Regions from separate parts of the Homo sapiens genome. Here region 1 is linked to region 2. A link means that fine-mapping ties the variant in region 2 to the expression of a gene that starts in the linked region. Tissue or cell type: unexposed skin. Region 2 holds a variant in brackets; the other region holds the start of a gene. All regions are shown on one strand. Distances are from middle to middle.

Region 1 (8,000 bases), 83 kb after region 2:
CAATTGTTATAAACCTGGAAGAATGGCTTACCTTAAATGCTAATTACCTACTATCCTTAAAATTATGGGAAGTAGTCTGGCAGATCATTTTAGCTGTACAAGGTCAAGGCATTAAATAATACTAACGTTATTTTCTTTTAAATTATCTTTCACCTTTTCTATTTCAAGGAGAAAGTTTTAGTTTGCTGCTGATATGTCTTTTATGCTTCTTTAACACTAATAGTGGTTTCAGATCTTCAGCAGATACTTGTATCTAGCTAGAAAATAGTAATATTTTTTCAGTATGTTTATTTTTATAGCAAGCTTTTATAAACATATATCAAGTGATGGGGTGTGCTTTCCCTTATGACTAACTTTAGTATTTTCTCTTTTTATTGACTTTGAAGCCTTGGAGAGAATACACACGGAACACTGCTCTAGCCTTTCCCGATCACAGGCAACTTCATGTGTGTCATTATAACCAAGACCACCGAAGTTACTTTCCTCAAGAACAATAAATAAGTAAGCCTTTGCTTAAAGCCTGGTATAAACTACTATAGTTAAGAAGTTTCTGTAGCTTCTACTCAGCAAAATACAGAAAACAAAGCACAGTATTTTACTTTGAGAGAACTGGGGAAAAAACAGTATTAGGCTTCCTTTTGTGATGCCAGAAAGGGACTTTCTTGGTCCCATACTTTAACCTCTTGAGAAACGTATTAGACTAGTACCTTTCTCCATCCCGACCTTCTCAACACTTTTGCTTACACAGCAGTTGTCCCCCAGATTGTGAGCTCCTTGTGGGCACAATCCCTGCCTTTTTCAGATTTTTGACTCCCAGGCTAAGTGATCCCCTGCAGATACTCAATGTTTACTAGATGAATGACCTGTACCCAGGGTTGGGCCTCTATTTAATTCTTCTCTCTTCTTCTTAAAATAAATATTGATTTAAAATTAAGGCAGCAGTAGTGGTTGTCCTTTGATGCAAGTCCTACATATTTATGGATCTGGGGAACCTACCAAGTTATAAATAACTCCCCATAAATCCTGAATCTGAACAACACAGGCCTTAAGCGCTGTTAAGAGTGAAAACGCCACTAGGTTTGCATCTATTGTTTCCAAAAAGGCATTTTATACATTAAAATTTATCATTAAATGCAATGCCAGTTTTTCTTTTTAAAACTATATTTTATGTTGGGAGAAAGTCCTTATGAGTCTACTGGTGAAATACGGATACATTATGTGTACATCACTTCTGGAGAAACAGTACTGAATAAAATTTGAACTCATGACATAAATATGGCAGAATATATTAAACTCTAACAAAGGACATATTTTCACTAACACACAAAACTTAAGACATCAAACAAGGCAATCCAAGCTCACAATGTCTTACTGTTGATTTTTTCCAGCTCTCTATACACACTCACTAAGAACTTCAACATTCCAATTTTATAACCTAGGGGAACTTCATTAAGTAGATGCCAGCTTACTAGGGCTAACCAAATAATACAAAGTTACCAAGGTAAATCACAAAAGAGATAATGCTTAAATCTATTCATTACTCATCTATTTTTTGCTAACAAGACTAATAAAGAATCCTAATGATACACTTTTAAAAAGCACTAAAAGAACATAAGGATTCTATAAGGAAGGTAGTTAAGTCAAAAATACACAGGTGAGGGAAGTCTGCCCAACAAGGCCCCTCATTTGTTTCTCCACTATCTTCAGCTAACATTTTAAAGCCAAACTTAGTTCCTTCTCAATCACTTCTCTAGCCTTTCCAAGGGCATCAGATCAGGTTGGTCCATGACTTCAAGACTACTTTCTCGGTAACATTAGTAACACCTTCTCCAAGCTACAAACTACTTCTAATATTTCTCCATAGAATATTAAAATTGAGGATCCTTTAGAATAAATACCATAATGGTTGTGTTCTCCAAACCTTCTTACAACCCATAGTGTAGCTCAACCTGAGCTATTTCCATATTAACGAGATGTCAAGATGTCAGTGAAGGAGACACACAGGCCTCAGCCTCTCTCCCGCTGTCGACAGCAAGAAAGCTCGGTATTCGGATACGTCTTCCCCACAGCATGACCAGATCTGAATGTAAGACAAAAGGTAGGTAAAGGCTGGATTTCTGGAGTATTTCCTAAGAAAGTGCGGGGCAGGAATTTAATGGCAACACCCTGAAGATTGCTAAGGTACAAAGTGTGTTGCCAGAGGGGTGGAGAAATAATAGGCTGGAAGGGAAGGAGGGAGAGGTGGTAGTGACAGTTTCCTAAGAGGCAATTAGTGCAACAGCTATTTCAGAATGGGCAGGGTGGATTTCTAAATGAAAACAAAACAAAACGAAACAAGGTAAATCAGAGAATATTTGCAGTATTTGCATTTAGCTTTTTAACATACCTGTGATTTCATTGTTTCTGCATGCTCAAAATGGTATTCAAGGGGGCCTATAACTTACTAGAACATATACAGCATGGCACCATCATATCATGCCATGCATGTTCAAAAACAAATATTCTTGCAACCTAAACAGATAGCAGTTAACTTCAAATATTACATTATGCTTTGTTTTGAAAGTGGTTATTGCTCATCTGCTTAGAATTTTGAAACTGGAGAGAGTTATCTGAGAGCCTTTACAAAGGCCTTACCCTGTATGCTGCGTCAAAGGAAACGACAAATAGGAAGAAAGGTTACACTGAAAACCACGTGTCTCCCGTTAGAAGTACATTACCACCTCGTTTTCCGAAAGTTCACTTTCGATGTCACCTTAACAATGCAAATATTTATTTCCAAATACTCAATTTGACATCCATGTATTTACTTCCCTCACTTTTTTTGAACAGAGAAGGGATTCCTTCCTCTGGGACCAACTAGTAAAAGTAATTTCTCCTTAACTTTCATGTATGGAGCACACTGTAAAAACAAAAACAAAAACAAGAAACTCAGGGCCCTAAAACAACAGTCCAAAGCCCAGAGGTGGGTGGGTTTGGATGTCAACAAAGTGGACCAGAGGAAGCAAAGCACTGCATGCCACGGTCCTGCAGATGGGGGATCGGTGAGTCTGATTTCAGGACGTTTCGAAACAATCCACTCCCACTCCGCCGCCCTGGGCGGGGCGGGGGGGCGGTGATGGGGGGTTCTGCCGTCGCGCCGGGTCTCCGCCCGCAGTCGGAAGAGTTGGGAGCAGGCCTCGGGCGGTAGCTCCTCAAACTCGGACCGCATCCCACCTCCACCCCGGCCTCAGTCCCGGCGCTGAGCACCACTCGCCAGACGCAAAACTGCAACTGCCAGGCATCGCGCATCTCTCAAAGGCTCCCCGCCAGCCCACCTCTTCCTCCAGGGCCACCCCAAGTTTCACCCGACGCTCCAGGTCAGGGGTCCCCGACCTCCCGCCATTTCTCCACGTAGCCGCAGCTCAGGACAGGAGGAGAGAGCCTCAAGGTGACACCTCATTTTGGCCAGTGGATCCGGGTTCTGGGTCCGAGTTCCCGGGCACCAGGAGCCAGGCAGCCCGAGCTCCCGGGCCCGGCTTCCCATGAGAGGCCCCGTCGCCTCACCTGGCAGCGGCACACGATGTCGGCGTCCTGCGCCAGCAGGTCCACCACCTTCCCTTTGCCTTCGTCGCCCCACTGCGCACCGAGCACCACCGTCACCCGGTTTCCTCCGGGCCGCGCCCTGGGGCGGCCGCAATCGCCGTTGGGCAGGGAGGATGCCGCCGGGTAGGTCTCGGCGAACGCCATGGCTCCAGTGACGCGAGGAGAGCCCGAAGGAGAGGCGGCCGGCGAGGAGTGAGCGAACTGAACTGCTCTGCGGCCGCCAGCCACATGCAGAGGAAGAAGGAGCCAGAGGCCGGCCCCGCCCCCGCCCCGCCGGGCCGCCACCCTCCAGCCAGTCCCCGCCCCGCTCTCCGCCACAGCCCGCTCAAGGGGGTACCATGACTGCCCCGCGCAGGCCGGCCTCGGCAGCACCGCCCGCAGGAAGAGGCCCTGGTGGCGGCAACGGCCGCCACCCCGGACCGAGGCCACGCCCCTTCCGCGGCCTGGCGCGCCACTCCCGTGCAAACCTCGCGAGCGGAAAAGGTCAGGGGCGGGGCTTCGAGAGCGCTTCTCCTTCAGCACCCCGCCTACCCGCTCTACCTCTCGCTTTCAAACTGGAGAGGCGCGGAAGCGCGTGTGGAGCGTCGGACTACAAATCCCAGCATGCAACGCTCTGGGCTGCGGCGGTGTATTCTGGGGCCACTGTGTCTGCCATCTGCAGGTTTGTCTGGATTTGTCTTTATTAAGGAATGAATGTGTACAAAATACAAACTGTGGAATTTCGCAGTACAAACAGCATAAAATCGGAACGTGTAAGTGTAGAATTGGAAATTAAAAGTCCGGAAGTAACAGAGATGGGGACAGGGATCAAAAAAGACAAAATTCAAAAGTAAGGCAATAAGATAAAGGACATGAGACCTGAAATCAATAGATCAAATAAAGTCCTAATCCTCATTTTACATAGTAGTAACAAAGGCTCAGAGAGGAGGAGTGGATTACCTATGTCGCATATAGTACATATATGCAGATACCGTCATGCACTTCTTTATTTTTTAATCCCCACAACCATATAAGGTAGGTGATCCTCTATTATCCTTATTTTACAGGATTTAAAAGCTGGGTAACTTGCCCTAGTGAGGCTTGAATTGGTACTTCGATAATCTAAGTCCAGAGCCCATGTCCTTCCTGTAGATTCCACTGTCTCTCAGTTACATTTGTAACTAGATTCTGGTGTATACCTACTGTTCATCTAATGCCCTTTCGACACCAACACAAATTAACTATGATGTTTAATTCTGATAAAAGGTGCTTCGAAAAAAAGTGGGAATGGAATCACATTATATGTACCGTCTCCCAAATCGCCTGTACATACTGTATGTTCACTAATGGTCCCTAGAGTACACTTTAGTATTTTATTTCTAGTCAATGAGTTAAGTCAGGAACATTGAGAACCTGCTATTAACTAACTAAGTGTCCTGGGCACTGATAACATAGGAGAAATAAAGATACAATTCAGCCCTCAAGGATTCAAATTATTTGGTCTATTGATTAGTAAACAATTATAATACTATGTGATAATTGTTGTCTATCTTGGCCTTATTACAAGATCACAAACATTTTGGAAACAAGAATGCCATCTATTTCTTTCTAGTCAAATGCCCGAGGTAGTGTTGGGCAGATAGTAGATACTGAATAAGCACACCTTACTAGTCATTTCCATTCAATTTTTTAAAATCATTTATGGGAGACTGATTTGAGTAATAATAAAACTCTGGTTTCCTGCACAGCCAGCTCTACATGAATTACTCTTTCTCTATTGCCATTTGCCTGTCTTGATGAATTGGCTCTGTCTAGGCAGTGGACAAGGTGAACCCCTTGGGCGGTTACAAATTTGGGGGCTTGTCTGGCATTGCCTTTGTGGCTACCTACTCGTGGTTCAGTGGCCCCCCTCCAGCAATGGATCCAGAAGCCTGCCCAAGCGGCCACCCAGTTCTCTTGGACTGGGGGCTGACTCTGGTACTCTCTCTACTGGTGGGGTGCTGCCAACCCAGTGTGCATGGATTTAATTGCAATGGAGAAATAGCCCCGGGGAGACGTCCCTTAACTGTAACCCTATCACAGGGTGTCTGTCTGTAGCCCCATTGCAGGGCAGGGTGTCTGGATTGGTGAGTATCCTAGGTGCTGCCAACGCCTCCTTTCTCCCAACTGGTTCTGTAGCCCTATGGTGAGGTGTCTGTAGCCCCATTGCAGGGTGTCTGTTCGGCTCCTGGGGGGGTCTCATTTGGCTCTTTCTAACTAGTAGGAAGAGTCCAGGTTTGGGAGACTTCTCCTGAATCAGGAAGATTTCAAGGAGGTTTCTCAGAAGGAGAATAGGAGGATAGTTTGGAAGGGATACTCCCGGAGTTCTTGGTTAGGGATCTGATTGGGAACGCCTTCTGTCCTCTCGTCTTTGTGTGCGTTTGTATATGTGGAAGGGATCTCAGAAGAGGTTGCTGATGGAAGTCCAGCAGACCTAACTCAAAACCCTCCTTATTTGTCTGGTCACATTTGATGAGCCCTACAGAAGGCTCAACAGGCCTGTCTCGGGGTGACTATCTGCTCTTCGTCTTGCCCAGAGACCCCATTGTGAATTACCGTTCGGAGGTCATCCCTCCCCACCTGGAGTGGATCAAAGACAACAGGGACCAAAGAGAAAAAGTTTTTGAGCTTTGCCAGGCTGATATTGGGAGCTGAACGAGGTGGCTAATGTGTGTTTTGTTATGTGTGTTTTGCTGGGATGGAAAATGTTAATTCGGTTCCCCATGCAGCCCGCTGGGCAGCATCTTGCAAATTAAGAATCTCGTCTATGTTTCCATAAAACAGTAAAGGGTGATTTTCTCTTGTAAAGTGGCTTGAACCCCACAGCTATAGCACAAGCAAGCAGGGTCATCAAAAGCCACTCCATTCTTCTGGAAACTGCAGAGAAAGGGAACCCGGAAATCTGGTATGCCGGCACAGAGGGTATGAAATTCTTACCGGACCGGTTTGTGGTCTCTCTCTCTCTTTCTCAGTAAATAGTAAACTGTTTACCTCCTCTGCAAGGGTTTGATAAATGGAAAAAAGGATTTGTGAGACTAGTCTTAGGCTGTAGCAAATCTGGTGTAGTTTTGTGCTAAGAATTTGTCTTTCTGTGTTCTGTAGTGGATAGATGGGTGTCACAGGATAGAACGTGGGTTTAGGACCCCTATAAGCCTGCTTTTCAAGCCGGCTTGGCAGGCTGGTCAGTTACAAACTTTGCTACAGGTCCCTGAAGCCAATACTGTATGAAATTTCTCTGTCTTGTTTTGTGTCCTGAAGAGCTTAACTTTGTGACCATGTGGAGATACTTTCTCTTGGTTTCCACCATCTAGAAGACAGGAATTTGGGGATTTTTAGGTTAGCCCTAAGAATTTTCTTGAGCAGTTAAAAGCCTTTGCAAGCTTGAAACTGGCTTCTGTAGGCTCCTTCTGGGAAGCACAATAGAAACTGCTCAATACTGTGTAACTCAGTAGCTAAGGTTTTGCCTCTTGACAGTGGGGGGTCTGGGTTCTATTCCTGGCTTCTGGAATGATTCCCTTCTGGTTTTTTATTTCTGTAACTTTGCCATTTATTGAGGTTCCCGCGTCCCCCCGCTCCCATGAATAGCTTCTGATTTCCTGTCTTGAATTTTCCTTTCTCTAAACTACCCTGGGGGAGATTCTACATCTTGTAGAAAAAAAAACTGCTTACCATCTCTTTGAGACACCTGTGTGTCCATGGTTATAAACTTAGTTAAAACTTAATTTCAGGTGGGAAGTTACCTGTGGTAGAATTCAAAAGCCAAAAATATTGGCCGCTTGGCGTGGCTAAAGTTGGGTATAAAATTTTTAAGGGTTTTTTTTTTTTTTTAAAGAGCGCTATGGTTAAAAGTCAGCTTAATTAAAAGTGGATAAACAAGCTGTAGGTATATTTAAAAGGCCTTTATGTTTCTCTCTTCTTGGATCTTGTTTTTCTGGAAAAAGATTATTTTTCTGGAAAAAGGTCTTTTTTTCCTTCTCAGTCAACTGAATTATTTTCCTCCACTTTTTTGTTTTGCCTATCTTAATGTACACATGAGAGGCCCTGAGATAGCTTCTGGTAGCCTGGGACTCCTTGGGAAAAACAGGAGGCACCACAGACCCCGTTTTGGAAAAAAGCTCTGTTTTCCTCATGAAACCCCAAGAATTAAAAGCAGACAGATCCCTCTCAAAATCCAAGGCTCTATTCTGTTTTGCATTGTGTTATCTGACGGTTTTGAGTTTTAGGGGCATCAGAAATTACTTCTCATTCTGAGAGAGCTTTGGTGTATAACAACTAGGTAGGAAATATACTTTAGGAGTTGGCTAATAGTAGTTACGGAGGCATACTTGGCTCTTCGCACACTTGGATCAGAGAAGCATGCTTTGGCCACCTGGAAGACATGGAAACACCCCCCCGCCCCC
Region 2 (8,262 bases):
CCCATGGAATTATGTATAAACTGGCAATATAATCCTTTATGCCATAATTTTTTTTCAGATTCCCATCCATCATGACTGCCATCCGACTACGAGAATTTATTGAGCGTCGCCCAGTGATCCCGCCAAGGTATAGTTCTTCCAGATGCACAGCCTCCGGGACTGAAGCCAGGCAGCCAGGTGCCTGGGGAGTTAGAATTGCACATCCTGCTGCTCAGTGGTCCAGAGACTACTGCCAGGGAGTTCTAGGGAAGCTCTTTGGATATTTCCTGATGAGCAGGTCTGTGCAAACCTACCGGCAAAAGTCAGAGGAAGCTGAGACGCCGAAGAAAGAGGCTGACAAATCCAGTTTCTTACAAAGAAATATTTAACAGGGACTTACGAACAGAAGCCATATATGTGTCTCGGGTAGCAGTGAGATGAGATGGTGGATGTCTGCGCCATTACCCCTGAGACCCAGGATTTAGATACCATAGGGGAAGAGTGATACAGAAGGGATATATGGGACAATTGAAGTACGATAACACCAATGTTGTTTGGCCGAAGGGCAGAACTTACAGTAAGTACCTGCTCTGACACCAGGAACTATAGAGAAACTGGAAATCTTAGAGGCCTGGGGTGATATGATTTGGTTGTGTCTCCACTCAAATCTCATCTTGAATTGTAGCTCCCATAATTCCTACGTGTCGTGGGAGGGACCTGGTGGGAGGTAACTGAACCATGGGGTGGGGTTTTCCCATGCTGTTCTCCTGACAGTGAATAAGTCTCACGAGATCTGATGGTTTTATAAGTGGGAGTTCCCCTGAACAAACTCTCTTGCCTGCCGCCATGGAAGACATGCCTTTCCTCCTCCTTTGCCTTCTGCCATGATTGTGAGGCCTCCCCAGCCGTGTGGAACTGTGAGTCCATTAAACCTCTTTTTCTTTATAAAATACCCAGTCTCGGGTATTTCTTCATAGCAGTATGAAAATGGGCTAATACAAGGGGTTAATCAGAAGCCAACATGGTGAATTAGCATCCAACATAGAGTTGCTCTAGCCTCCACATTGGGTTTAGGGAAAGTTGTAAGAAAAAGAAGCCTCACACTCACTGCAGAATCCAAGCAAACAGGCAACTCCAAATTCCCAAAAGACCAGAAGGATATTGGTTTTTGCTTGGGAAGAGCTTTAGTGAGAAGTCTGAGCAATCCAAGCCCACATTTTGGATTGGACCATTTTACTCTGCTTGTGGGAAAACAAACTGCTCCTGTGCTTCCTCTGATGAGAGCTGACGGCACAGATGGAAACTAAGGAGCTGTTTCGCTCTTTCTTCAAGGTCCTCTATGGCACAAGAATAACAAGCCCTAGATCTGTCTTGTTGTGCTAAATTTGGTATCAGATGACAGTCCGTAAATCCTAACCCCACTCCCCCTTCACCACCTCGACGGGTCTGCAGCAGTGTAGTAGCTATAAATTTGTGACAGCAACCTCACACCATGACATGGGGGTCAGCCTCCTGTAGCCCCGTTGGCTTTGTGGCTTTGAGCAAGCCTCGTGTTTAGTTTATTTTATTTTTATTTATTTATTAGAGACAAAGTCTGGCTCTGTTGCCCAGGCTGGAGTGAAGTGGCTGGATCATAGCTCAGTCCAACTTCAAACTCCTGGGCTCAACTGATCTTCCTGCTGCCTTAGTCTCCTGAGTAGCTAGGGCTACAAGCTGCCTGGCTAATTTTTAAATTTTTTGTAGAGACCAGGTCTCACTATGTTGCCCAGACTGTCTGGAACTCCTGGCCTCAAGCAGTCCTCCCACTTGGTATCACAAAGTGTGGGATTATGGGTGTGAGCCACAACACCCAGCCTCATGTTTATTTTAATATTGAGTTATTTTAGCCATGTTTGGTCAACAAAAGAGAAGTCCTTCTTCCAGAAACTACAGAAGGAGTGAATGGATGGATGTGTCCTTCCTGGCTACATCTTAAGAATTTTCTTTTAAGACCTGATGCAGTGGCTCGTGCCTGTAATCCCAGCACTTTGGGAGGCCAAGGCGGGTGGATCACTTGAGGTCAGGAGTTCGAGACCAGCCTGGCCAACATGGTGAAACCCTGTCTCTACTAAAAATACAAAAATTAGCCAGGCGTGGTGGCACACACCTGGAATCCCAGCTACTCGGGAAGCTGAGGCAGGAGAATCGCTTGAACCCAGGAGGCAGAGGTTGCGATGAGCCGAGATCGCACTACTGCACTCCAGTGTGGGCAACAGAATGAGACTCTGTCTCAAAAAAAAGAAAGAAAGAAAAACTAAACAGATAGAATAATTGGAAGTTGTGATAAAGGAAATGAAAAAGGGTGTGAGGGAGAATAATCAGGTGGAGAGGTAGGCAGAAGGAGAATACCTTCTCTAGCCAGGGTGTTCAGGGAACAGCTCTCTCAGCAGTTGTCAGCCGAGCATGATGCTGGGTGATAGGGGCAGGGGGTGGGAGAAGGGTGCGGTCTAGGGAGGAGGAAGTGCAGGTCCAAAATCCCTGATTCATGAAAGAAGCCATGACATGATGACACAGGGGCTGGAGCTGGGAGAAGGTTGGGACGGTAGAGGCAGGAGAAGTTCCCGGAGGGCTTTGTGGCCTACAATAGTGAGTCTGGGTTTTATGCTATTATACATGCAATGGGTTGAAGGGTTTTATGCAATGGAGGGCCCTGATCCGATTTACTTTTATGAAGCTCACTCTGAGAACAGATTGTCTGAGGACAAGAGTGGGGGTTATTGCAGAGAGCAGGGGGAGGCAATGGTGAGCTGGACCAAGGGGTGGCCGTGGGCTGGAGAAGCCGTCCCATGGGAGATCCAGCCTGGAGGGGGAATGCACGGACTTGCTGATTGGACCCACAGGTCAGGAGAGGCACACAGAGCTGCCTCACGGTGCGCACTATGGGCGGAGGGTGGGGGCAACAAGACTAGTTCAGGTGCAGGAAGAGCCGGAGCCGTCAGTGTGCCCCCCAACCCACGTGCGGCTCGGAGGACAAGCCCCAGAGAGCAGAAGACAGCCCAGCCTTAGGCCTCCAGGGGCCCCAGGGCCTGCTGTGCTCAGTTCCACCCAAACCCCCGGACTCCCGGCCAGGTCCAGACACCACAGAGCACTAGGCAGGAGTGGCCAATGGAGGTTTGTTTCCATTTTCCCCAGATAAGACCACAGTTAAATAGGCCTCTCAGTGAACAAAACAGATCTCAAACACACACAGAAAGAGCAAACGCTGTGGGGAGACAATCAGGAAATACTGGAGCCAACTCCATTCCTCTCTCCCCTGCTTCCTCCTCATCCGGGTTTCAGGAAGGAAAGGTTTTTGGTTTTTTGTTTTGTTTTGTTTTGTTTTTGTTTTTTTGAGACAAAGTCTTGCGCTGTCACCCAGGCTGGAGTGCAGTGGTATGATCTTGGTTCACTGCAACTTCTGCCTCCTGAGTTCAAGTGATTTTCATGCCTCAGCCTCTCGAGTGCTGGGACTACAGGCGCCCACCACCACACCTGGCTAATTTTTTATTTTTAGTAGAGACAAGGTTTCACCATGTTGGCCAGGCTGGTCTCGAACTCCTGACCTCAAATGATCCACTCAACTTGGCCTCCCAAAGTGCTGGGATTACAGGCTTGAGCCACTGCACCTGGCCTACTTTATCTGTTTCTTTATATCCTGCCTGTCTCACCCCCTGGAATAATAATGGTAAACACTTCTGAAGCTCTTACTCTGTGCCAAGCACTGTTCTAGGTGCATCTGAACTCCTTTAACCTTCACTACTGTGAGTTTCATATGAGGAAACCAAGGCACGGTGTGGTTAAATGACTGCCCCAGATCCCACAGCTACTGACTGGCGGACATGGGACTTAAACTCACGTCTGTGCTTGTGGTCACTGCATTTTGCCACATCTCCAGGTTAGCCCTCCAGGCAGGGCTTACTTCCCTTTCTCTGCAACTCACTATCATGACCTCTGCCTTGCAGATTACCATTCCTGGTAGGCCCTGTAGGCACGGTTGTTGAAAATATTGAAATGAATGAGTGAGCAAAGTTATCCAATCGTTTATGTGTGGTGTGTACCCCTGGTGACTGATGGCACCTGAGCCTGCCCTTGTGTGGTTCTGCACAAGCATGTATCCAATTCATCCTTAAATGGCCAAGCCTCAGAGCTACGCTACAGAAAACTGAGGTTTTGGGACACTAAATAAAAGTAAATATTAAATGGTTCACACTTAGTAGTGGCCACATAAAATTCTTGTATTCATCATCATATTGGCCGGGTGCGGTGGCTGACGCCAGTGATCCCAGCACTATGGCAGGCGAGGCAGGCGGATCATGAGGTCAAAAGATTGAGACCATCCTGGCCAACATGGTAAAACCCCGTCTCTACTAAAAATACAAAAAATTAGCAGGGCGTGATGGCACACACCTGTAGTCCCAGCCTCTCGGGAGGCTGAGGCAGGAGAATTGCTTGAACCTGGGAAGGCAGAGGTGGCAGTGAGCCAAGATTGCACCACTGCACTCCAGCCTGGCGACAGAGCCAGACTCCGTCTCAAAAAAAAAAATCATATTATATGCAACTGTTTACTGGTGCCATCCCCTGGCTACAGGCTGGAGGCCTGTCACTCAGAGAAGGGCTGGGTGTGGCATTGGTTTGTGGAACCCAGGATACTCCTGAAAAGATCACTTTAAGTGGATTAAATTCAGTGTGTTGTAGAAGATCGAAGATACAGAATTTGTGTGTGATTTAAATAGACTTTTAAAACTTTGATCGAAACAGTCTCTGAAGATCCAGAGGCAACTGTGTGGTCAGCCCATCCTGCGTGGGATGATATTGGAGCAGCGTCATTTCTCTGGGGTACAACCCGTGGTTCATTGCCACACGCCAAAGAAATCAAGGACGTGAACA[C/T]ACAAGGAGTGAGGTTAAGAGCGGAGGTTTAATAGGCTAAAGAAAGAGAAAATCTCTCTCTTACAGAGAGAGGGAGTCGCAGTGGGTCTTCTGGTCCCTGGTGAAGTGCAGGTTTTATAACCGAGCTTGAGGAGGTGGTGTCTGATTTACATAGGGCACGAAAGATTGGTTGGACCAGGTGTGCCATTTGCATAACGTGAGAAGAACTGGTTAGGACTAGGTGTGGTGTTTGCATAATGTGGGAAGAACTGGTTAGGACTAGGTGTGCTGTTTGCATGGCACGTGAAGAAGCTGGCCGCCCCACCCTAATCTTTTATTATGTAGATGGGTTCTCTGCCTAGCCGGGTCACGTTCAGTTGCCTGTTTTTGTTTGTACTATACACGTGGTGACAGAGAAAGGGGAAGATGGCGCCTCCATGTTGAACATGCTGGCCCTCAGGTAGCCCTTTTCTATGGGCACAGCTGCCAGCATTCACCCACACAAGTTTCCAGCTTGCTTATTCATGTCTGCAGCATGATTTTACAGGCTACTCTTTGTTAGAAAATAAATGACTTTGGGGCTGCTTTTTGTTAAAAGGGAAATTCCGCCGAGGACTCTGTTGCCCTTTCCATCTGCCTAAATAATTTCCATCTCCTGTATCAATACCAACACCTTGGGAGATGTTAGCCACCAAGTACAAATGTCTCGTTTACTCTCATGCAATCATTAAAGGAGAAGACAGTATCATTCCCATTTTACTGATGAGGAAACTGAGGCTCCCCACTCCCTTGAGGAGATTCTTGTGGAGCCGGCAGAGCCTGGGAGATGAGGGCACAGGTCTGGAGGCTTCCTAGTCCTTCCTTTAGTTCTGTCTTCTGGACTTACTAGCTCATGTCCTTAGCTAAGTTATTTACTTCCCCTGAGCCTCAGTTTCTTATCAGGCGTAGCACTCACCACATCGTCTGTGATTAGATAGTTGCCTAAACGTGGCTTTCCTGACCAGATTATGAACTCTTGAGTGGAAAGACAACATTGTCATCACTGTATCCCTAGTGCCTAGCCCACTGGAGGCACAGCAGAGCTTGCAGTGAGTGCTTTTCGTTGAGTTAAAAGCATCTTCCAGCTAACACTGCTGTGTCTTTATGGCTTTTCCTATTTTTTAGTGTACAATGTCTATTTGCTGTCTGCCCCAAAATGAGAGAATCACAGAGTTTGTATGAAAATAGCACTGAATTCTTATTAAAACAAATCATCACACATACCCTCGGGTGGCAGAATAGCGACATGGAGTTTGGAGAACTGGGTTTGATACACGGCGCTGGCATTTACTTGTTTAAGTGGACTTTACTACTTAAAAAGTCCACTTAACCCTTCTGAGACTTGGGCTATTCTTATAAAGCAGAGAGTTAATCATGTTTACCTTGCAAGGTGACTGTGAGGATTAAGTGAGATCATTTCTGTAAAAATGCTCTGTAGAGGATGAGCCCCAGCAGGGCCGTAACAGAGAAGAGCGTGGTCACAGGAACACAGGCTACCTGGGGCTGTGGGGCCAGGCTCTGGAGGGACCGACACCTCTGGCCTCTCCTATAGATATTGAATTTTGACTGTGGCTAAGCCCAGATCCCACTCCATTTACAGCCACCCTCCCAGGGAACAGGTTTGCTCTCATGTGGACTGAATACATCACCTCAAAAAGCCAAGCCATCAGGGACTCAAAATCACGCACGGTGCCTGCACCTGCCCAGTGAGAAGGAAAGGGCTTTCTACAGCTGGTTAAAACCCGGGTTCAACAGAATCACTCTGAGCAGAGCCCTGAGCTGGGCTGGCCTCCACAGCCAAGTCTGAAGAGTCCGCACGTGCTTTCACAATCATTCACTGAGGCCGGGTAATGCACAGCCTCTGGCCTGGCTAGACATTTCCCCTTAGGAGGTCAAAACTCTCTTCTCCACCCAGCCATCCCTCTCTCCACACCCATCTCCTTACACACACCTTCCCATTTTCTTTTCACTCCTCCCAAAACCTGCCAAGAGACACTGCCAAGGGGCGGTGGCAGGGAGGATTACTTGGTGCTGGTGCTGGGATTCTTTATCCTCAAATCAGCTTTTACTGACTGCTTCTAAGGAGCAGCGCTGAGTTTACTCACCTGTATTCAGCAGGTGTTTGTTTGTATGCACGCCATGGTCAAAACCCAGCCCACCGCCCACAGCCCAGCAACTGTAGAAACCAGCATCCTTTAGGTGGGTTCTTAAACTGTAATGTGGCCCTGGGGTAATATTCCAAGGTGGTGCTTCAGAAAATGGATAGGTGCCTAAGAAAGCTACGTGTCCCACCCCTGTGCATTCAGAAATGTCATTTGTTCCCTTTATTGTGCCAGTTCCTCTCTCTTCTTATGACTTAATACCCCATTGTTATTTACCATCCAGGGCTCAGTCATATTATCCCAGCCACTGGGCAGGCCCAGACAGCCTGTGGTTTTTCTGCAAATCAGAGCTCCCAGAGGTCGTCTTTGCACAGACAGAGACAGAACTCGCCCTGCTCAGTGCTTGCCTTTCATGCTAGACAGTCAGGCCCACTCTAGCCCTCATACACTCCACTCAGAACCTAATTCTGTCCATGTCTTGGCCCCTATAATTCCCTTTGCTTGGAATCTCTTCCCCAACCCCTTTGCTTATCCGAGTCCTAGATCTAGATACTCCTCCCTCTTCTGTGTCCTATGGACCCTTTATTCAGATCACTATTTCAGCATGTGAAGAGCTTTTTGAGGACAAGCGCTGCTTCTTAGTCAGCTTTGTATCTGCAGAGCCTAGCATAGTGCAGGGTGTTTTGTGTGCATTCAATAAATGTTGGTTGAGTCGAACTGAAGGCATAGTTTCAGTTTTCATCCATTATCTAACACATATTTAGTGAGATACGTTATGCAAAATGATGTGCTACTTTCTACTGACTCTGAATTTTTTTTTTTTTTTTTGAGATGGAGTCTCACTCTGTCCCCCAGGCTGGAGTGCAGTGGCACGATCTCAGCTCACTGCAAGCCCCACCTTCCAGGTTCACACCATTCTCCTGCCCCAGCCTCCCAAATAGCTGGGACTACAGGTGCCCGCCACCACACCTGGCTAATTTTTTGTATTTTTAGTAGAGACTGGGTTTCACCGCGTTAGCCAGGATGGTCTCGAACTCCTGACCTTGCGATCCGCCCGCCTTGGCCTCCCAAAGTGCTGGGATTACAGGCGCGAGCCCAGCCTCCTGACTTTGAATTTTTATGGCATCTACTGACTGCTCAGAATCTGTGGGACATCCCGAAAGACCCCACATGTCCAGGCATCACAAACTCAATAAAGTCACCTTCCCAATGATGGCCATTTATTGTGTTCCCTCTCTTGGGGAAAGGCAGGATTCTT

The links. PIP is the estimated chance that this variant, and not a neighbour inherited with it, causes the effect.
Region 1: ADSS2 starts here. The variant in region 2 is fine-mapped to the expression of ADSS2 in unexposed skin (GTEx, PIP above 0.99).

Annotation. Positions count from the first base shown.
Region 1 is chr1:244,448,092-244,456,091 of GRCh38, forward strand. ADSS2 (adenylosuccinate synthase 2) reads right to left here and starts at 3,818. Exons shown (of 13, transcript NM_001126.5): 1 at 3,544-3,818. The coding sequence starts at 3,726. It also overlaps a transcript of CATSPERE not described here. RefSeq lists silencers at 2,998-3,277, 3,718-4,207.
Region 2 is chr1:244,364,630-244,372,891 of GRCh38, forward strand. SPMIP3 (sperm microtubule inner protein 3) reads left to right here. Exons shown (of 5, transcript NM_001012970.3): 2 at 59-127. The coding sequence starts at 72. Among named protein-coding and RNA genes, the nearest start is that of SPMIP3, 16 kb to the left of the region's middle. The variant C/T (reference allele first, on the strand shown) is at 4,885.